2 linked regions of the Homo sapiens genome follow. The protein of the gene in region 1 purifies or fractionates together with the protein of each later gene. This does not show direct contact. Each region holds a gene or a part of one and is shown on either strand. Other genes may lie near its edges.

Evidence for each region. The genes of interacting proteins can lie anywhere in the genome.
Region 2: the proteins of MTHFD2 (region 1) and MSRB2 fractionate together in Homo sapiens (co-fractionation; one large-scale study listed by BioGRID). This does not show direct contact.

What each region holds. Positions count from the first base shown.
Region 1 is NC_000002.12:74,201,465-74,205,300, forward strand, and holds part of MTHFD2 (bifunctional methylenetetrahydrofolate dehydrogenase/cyclohydrolase, mitochondrial isoform A precursor), read left to right. Parts: exon of another isoform or gene 1-15; intron 16-3,836. UniProt on the Homo sapiens protein: Although its dehydrogenase activity is NAD-specific, it can also utilize NADP at a reduced efficiency.
Region 2 is NC_000010.11:23,098,579-23,102,078, forward strand, and holds part of MSRB2 (methionine-R-sulfoxide reductase B2, mitochondrial precursor), read left to right. Parts: intron 1-3,500. UniProt on the Homo sapiens protein: Methionine-sulfoxide reductase that specifically reduces methionine (R)-sulfoxide back to methionine.

The DNA of each region.
Region 1 (3,836 bases):
CTCCCACCTCAGCTTGTGAGTAACTGGGACCACAGGAGCATACCACCATGCCTGGCTAATTTTTTTTTTTTTTAACTTTTAGTAGAGATGGGGTCTCACCATGTTGCCCACGCTAGTCTTGAACTTGGCCTCCCAAAATGCTGGGATTACAAGGCCTGTGCCACCATGCCCAGCCCTGGGAATTTTTTCTAAACACATCTGTGAATGCATTTAATTCTGGGATAAATGTTAGCTAATATAGTTACAATTTTGGATTCCCCGTGGGACTTAGCTGACTCTCCATTTCCCTGTTTATTTTGGGGTAGCAGTTAATCTGCCCCTTGGCAAAAGAGATGATGCTAAATTAGTTAATGACTCACTCCCAAGGCTGTATTTCACATTTTGCAGAGTTGTGGGAAGCAGAGGAGGGCTGACAGTTATACTATGAAAGATATTCATTGCATGTGACTTTGTTTTTGGTTCTTGTTACTCTTTGACTGTTTTTCTTTCTTTTCTTTTTTTTTTTTTAAGCAAATTGGCATAACATCCAGAACCTGCTTTTGGAAGCAAAGTTTGGGACTTGGAACACTGGCTTTTCCCAGAACCCTGTGTCCTTAACTTCAGTATATGATTTTATCTGAATGTGCTAATACCATTTTCTCTAAGTTTACTGCTTTCAAAAGAAACTTTTTATGAGGTGCAAGCTAAGTCATTCTCACTGACTAGATATACATATAGTGTATATACTTATATATATCTCCTTATGTGTAAGTGTATCTATTTTAAGGATACATGTGTATGTGTGTGTATATATACATATATATATAAAACCAAGAGAAAAGAGTAAGAAATTAGTTTTATTGAACATATATGCCTGGCACATTATATATGTTTGTTATTTCATTCAACATAAATGACTGTTCTAAGCCGTTTTAAAGTAGTCTTTCACTCTGTAGTGTTCCAGGATTAGGAATGTATTTTTGGCCTGCGGTGGGCATTCCAGGTACTAATACAAATCAGGAATGAGGAATGTTGCCAGGTGTATTTGTATCAGCAAAACCCCCCTATTTTAATTTTTTTTTTTTGAGATGGAGTCTGACTCTGTTGCCCAGGCTGGAGTGCAGTGGCACGATCTCCGCTCACGGCAGTCTCTGCTCACTGCAACCTCTGCCTCCCGGGTTCAATCGATTCTCCTGCCTCAGCCTCCCAAGTAGCTGGGTCTACAGGTGCGTGCCACCATGCCCGGCTAATTTTTTGTATTTTTAGTAGAGACGGGGTTTCACCATATGAGCCAGGATGGTCTCAATCTCCTGACCTCATGATCTGCCTACCTTGGCTTCCCGAAGTGTTGGGATTACAGATGTGAGCCACCATGCCCGGCCTGCAAAACCCTTTTAATGAAGTCCTCTTCGACTCTAATTCTGAAATGGAATTGTGAATATTAATATGTTTTCAATTTCTTCATATACCATGGGTATAATTAAATGCTATTATATGTTGTGCCATGCTAGTATTATATAAAATCAGGGTAAAAGTATTTGATTTGCTGTAAGATTGTAACTTTTTTCTTTTTTTGAGATGGAGTCTTGCCCTGTTACACAGTCTGGAGTGCAGTGGCGTGATCTTGGCTCACTGCAACCTATGCCTCCTGGGTTCGAGATATTCTCCTACCTCAGCTCCCGAGTAGCTGAGATTACAATTACAGGGTCCTGCCACCATGCCTGGCAAATTTTTGTATTTTTAGTAGAGGCGGGGTTTTGCCATGTTGGCCAGGCTGGTCTCAAACCCCTGACCTCAAGTGATCTGCCCACCTTGGCCTCCCAAAATGCTAGGATTACAGGCATGAGCCACCGTGCCTGGCCAGATTATAATAATTTAATACTTCACAAGATGCAATACAGATTAAGATAAAGTTTATATATAAGATTATTGCATTATATCTAAGATGTTGAGATTTGGTTTAAAGTTGGTATTTAATCATAATGCAATAAAAAACACTTATTGAAGGCCTAAAGATTGTGAAAGCTTTAAAATCCCATTTAAATTAGCAGTTACTGGCCGGGTGCAGTGGTGGGTGCCTGTATTCTCAGCTATGGAGGCAAAAGCTGGAGAATTGCATGAACTTGGGAGGCTGCAGTGAGCTGAGATTGCTCCAGCCTGGGCAACAGAGCAAGACTCTGTCTCAAAAAAAATAAATAAATAAATTAGCAGTTATCTTGAGAATTAATTTTATCTGACCCTACAGGATATTCAGTACCTTGATGTTAGGTTTTAGAATATAAGAGGAGATTACTTCATTGGTCTTGAGGTTAGAGCAGTCTTCATGACACCAAGGACAGAGATCTAAAGGGAAAGGCTTTTTTTAATGGGATCATTTTACTTAAGGAAGAGATGCTCATCTAGTTTAGTTTAGTTTAGTTTAGTTTAGTTTAGTTTAGTTTAGTTTAGTTTAGTTTAGTTTAGTTAGTTTAGTTTAGTTTAGTTTTTTGAGATGCAGTCTTTCTCTGTCGCCCAGGCTAGAGTGCAGTGGGGTGATATCAGCTCACTGTAACCTCTGCCTCCTGGGTTCAAGCAATTCTCCTGCCTCAGCCTCCTGAGTAGCTGGGATTATAGGCGCGCACCACCATGCCTGGCTAATTTTTGTATTTTTAGCAGAGACGGGGTTTTGCCATGTTGACCAGGCTGGTCTGGAACTCCTGACCTCAAGCAATCCACCCTCCTCGGCCTCCTAAAGTGCTGGGATTACAGGCTTGAGCTACCACGCTGGGCCAGATGCTCATCTTTAAGTAATGGGCACTTTACTGTAAGGACATGTGTGAAAATAGGAAAACTGGGACTCTTCCACATTTGGGTTTCATGGAACCCAGGAAGAGTTGCATAAGCAGTTCTCTTTGGGAAGAGACAGCCTTTCGGGCAGCTGAACATGGTTTTGGGAACTGGAGGTTCTTCTAGATCCTGATTTTTCTTCTTGCTCCCCACCTCAGCAACAGTTTTCTGATTTCTTGCCCTGTTGTCTCCCATTGGTGTGACTATTATTCTGCCTATTCTTTCTGTCTTTGTTCTGTGGTTCTAGTTTGAACTGCCTCAGGGACGAGCTCTTACTGGTTCAACTAACTCTCACTGCTCTGTTGAGCTAAGCTTTTGCGCCAACTGGACCACTGGCCAGCCTAGAGATTGTTGCCCTTGGCGTCACATACTCACTCCTGGTCTGTCAGCTTTGGATGATATGGTGGGGTCCCTGGGAAGAGCACATTGCCAACTGTGAGAAGGAGCTTCCTCCAGTCCCCTGCCCTGCCCCTATTCTTACCAGGAAAGTCTTCCCCAGAAGGGACTGTGGGGAGTGGTGGTCATTTTGATGTTTGACCTGTCCAGTATGTTGTTTGTTTGTTTGTTTATTTTTGAGACGGAGTCTAGCTCTGTCACCGAGGCTGGAGTGCAGTGGCACAATCTCAGCTCACCGCAACCTCTGCCTCCTGGTTTCAAGTGATTCTCCTGCCTCAGCCACCTGAGTAGCTGGGATTACAGGAGCCCACCACTACGCCCAGCTAATTTTTGTATTTTTAGTAGAGACAGGGTTTCATGTGTTGGCCAGGCTGGTCTCGAACTCCTTACCTTGTGATCTGCCCTCCTCGGCCTCCCAAAGTGCTGGGATTACAAACGTGAGCCATCGTGCCCGGCCTATATTGTTTGTTTATTCAACTACAGAATATAATTTATCGATTTAAACCACCATAAAAATGAAGTCAGTTGACTGGGAAATGATTTGAAATACATGCCTGGCTGCTAACAACAGGGACAAAACACGAACTACAAATGGCATATAAGCAGATAAGAAAAACTATTTAACCTCATGGTGA
Region 2 (3,500 bases), on another chromosome or scaffold:
AAGGATGAGCACGTGGTGCAGAGGACAGAAAATACCTGCACACACACAGAAAAGGACACAGCCAGTGTTGAAACCTCTCTCTAGCCACGGTAGCCAGAAGACTTGACTCATTCCCAAGTGAGAGACCTTGTCGTGTATCTAATTTACACGTGCCTAAATTGCTGTTTGATAAAACTGCTCAGAATTTACTCATACTGTAATTTTTATTTAAACTTTGGTTGTTTTCTAAAGCCCCAGTGTGTTCATTTGCTAGGGATCCCATAACAAAATATCACAGGCTGGGCAGCTTAAACGATGGAATTCATTTTCATACGGTTCTGGAGGCTGGAAGTCCAAGGCCAAGACTTGTCCTGAGATTTGTCCTGAGACCTCTTTCCTTAACTTGGGGATAGCTGCCTTCTTGCTGTGTCCCCAGGCGGCCTTTTCTCTGCTGTCCCTTCCTCTTATGAGGACACCAGTCTTATTGGACCAGGGCCCCCTCTTAATGGCCTCATTTTGACATGATTGCCTCTTTAAAGGCCCTGTCTCTAAATGCAGTCACATTTTAAAGTACTGGGGATTAGGACTTCAACATATGAATTTGGAAGTTGGCGGGCAGGGAGTGTCACAATTCAGCTCATAACATCCAGGTCAAAGAAACCTCTTAAAGTGATACAGCCCACATATAACCTGACCTGGGTGTACCCAACTGAGCGTTCATCATTTTGCTATCAAAGCAAAGTCTGTCTGCCCTTGACTGAGCCTTCTAGGCTGGCAAATTCTGCAGCTAAATGTTGCATAATTGGTGCTTGAACAAGAACTAGTCTAAACATTATTGCCTACCCACTAAAGTTTTCGCACACATTAAAAATAGTGTAAAAGGTCCACATTGATAAGGATTAAAAGAACCATTAAAAATGTCCTTTCCATATTGTACTTAGATGAAGGCTTAATTCTTTTGGTTAGCAATTTAAATACTAGTTATATATTTTAAACTTAAAAAGAAAATATTATGGCGTGGCACTGTGTCACGCACCTGTAGTCTCAGCTACTTGGGAGGCTGAGGAAGGAAAATCGCTTGAGTCCAGGCATTCAAGGCTGTAGTGTACTTTGATCATGCGTATGAATAGCCATTGTGCTCCATTCTGGGCAACACAGTGAGACTCGGTCTCTTAAAAAAATTAGGGCAGAGGGAGAAGGTGGTGTCTGAAGAACAGATAGTCACTCTCTAATACGTGTAACAAAATATAGAGGTGTGGGAGAGGGAGCTGGGAACCCAGACCAACTCAAGCCTTAGGTTCAAAGCGAAAGAAGTACATGTTTTAAAGCTCAATTCATGAGAGTCCCACTGACTTTTAGCTCTTCTCTAATTCCCACTTTCCAGTGTCAGCTACTATAGTGTACTGCCTGTTGAGTCACACTAAGGACAGTGCTTCCAGGAGACAATAGGGTTTTTTTCTAAGCCCATTCCACTTCCTGCCTGAAAGGAGACAGGAAGATAAAGCCAGCTTCACAGACTGTAAATTCCAACCTTTGTACCTGAAGTTGGTCCTCTTACCTATCTACAGGAATAATGCAAGATCTTTGCCAAAGCTAAGAGGAGGGTGTTTTATCATGATGCGTTTAGTCCTTTCCTTGACAAATGTCAATGATAGCCAGAGATTAGGTCTCACAAATTCCCCCACGGGACCAGAGTTTAGATCTGGGAGGAGGAACCCAGGACATACACTCTTTCTAGCAAAGCCTGTTCTTGCTCTTTTTAGTGCCTCTGGCTAAAGCATTCTCTTTTTAAATCATTTGAGGTGGCCAAGAAGAGACAGGATCCTGAACAGAAGTGGCAAAAAAACAGACAGGAAGAGGCTTGTATTAGTTTGTTTTCACAGTGCTATAAAGAAATACCAGAGACTGGGTAATTTAGGAAGGAAAGAGGTTTAATTGGCTTACGGTTCCACAGGCTGTACAGGAAGCATGGCTGGGGAGGCCTCGGGAAACTTACAATCATGATGTAAGGTGAAGAGGAAGCAAGCACATAAGCAAGCACATCTTACATGGTCAGAGCAGGAGGAAGAGAGAGAGGGGGAGGTGAACTTTTAAACAACCAGATCTCTCGATAACTCACTATCACGAGAACAGCACCAAAGGGGAAATATGTCCCCATGATTTAATCACCTCCCACCAGGCCCCACCTCCAACACTGAGGATTACAATGTCACATGAGATTTGGGTAGGGACACAGAGCCAAACCATATCAGAGGCAGTCACTCGTTCCACTGTGACAAGATGGAAAAAGGGTAGATGTAGGTATTAGTAAGTGTGATGGTTTGGTAGCCAGAAGGTTTGTGGCTTTTGATTTTGCAAAAGTGAAATCTGTTGAGAGGAAGGGGAGACGTAGTAGATAGATACCATGGTTTGAGGAGAGTGGAAAAGGTTTTTTGTTTTGTTTTGTTTTGTTTTGTTTAATTTCAATAGCTTTTGGGCGAACAGGTGTTTTGTTACATGAATAAGTTCTTTCTTTAATGGTGATTTATCAGATTTTGGTGTACTCATCACCCGAGCAGTGTACATGGTACCCAATGTGTAGTCTTTTATTCCTCATCCCCCTCACACCCTTTCTTCTCTGAGTCCCCAAAGTCTATTGTATCATTCTTATGCCTTTGCATCCTCATAGCTCAGCTCCCACTTATGAATGAGAACATACGATGTTTGGTTTTTCATTCCTGACTTACTTCACTTAGAATAATAGTCTCCAATTCCATCCAAGTTGCTGTGAATGCCATTATTTTGTTCCTTTTTATGGCTGAGTAGTATTCCATAGTCTATATATATACCATCATTTCTTTATCCACTAGTTGATTGATGGGCATTTGTGTTGGCTCCATATTTTTGCAATTGCAAATTGTGCTACTATAAACGTGTGTGCAGGTATCTTTTTCATGTAATGACTTCTTTGCCTCTGGGTAGATACCCAGTAGTGGGATTGCTGGATTAAATGGTATTCTACTTTTAGTTCTTTAAAGAATCTCCACACTGTTTTCCATAGTGGTTGTACTAGTTTACATTCCTGAGAGTGGAAAAGGTTTAAAACACTCATTGCAGAGAAATGGGAAGAGAGCTGACTGGGGAAAGATGGTTCCATGGTTCACTGAAACCCCAGTGAGATGAGTAACTTTGAGTTTATAAGGACAACCCTCTCCCCAGGTGGGGGATTTTCTCCAGTAGTGCTTGATGGTACACGGGTAGCCATGGAGAAGATAGTTTTTTAAATAAGCTTTTTTATTTTGGAATAATTTTAGATTTATAGACAAGTTATAAAGACAGTACAGAGTTCTCAAGACCCCTCATCCGGATCCCCCTGGTAATCTTCTGACATCATCATAGTACATTTGTCAAAACTGTCTCTGTCTTTCATGACCTTTACAGTTTTGGGGAGGACTGGTCAGGTTCCTTGTAGAATGTCCCTCAGTCTGGGATTGTTTGATGTTTCTCCTCACAATTAAACTGGGATTATGGGCTATTAGGAA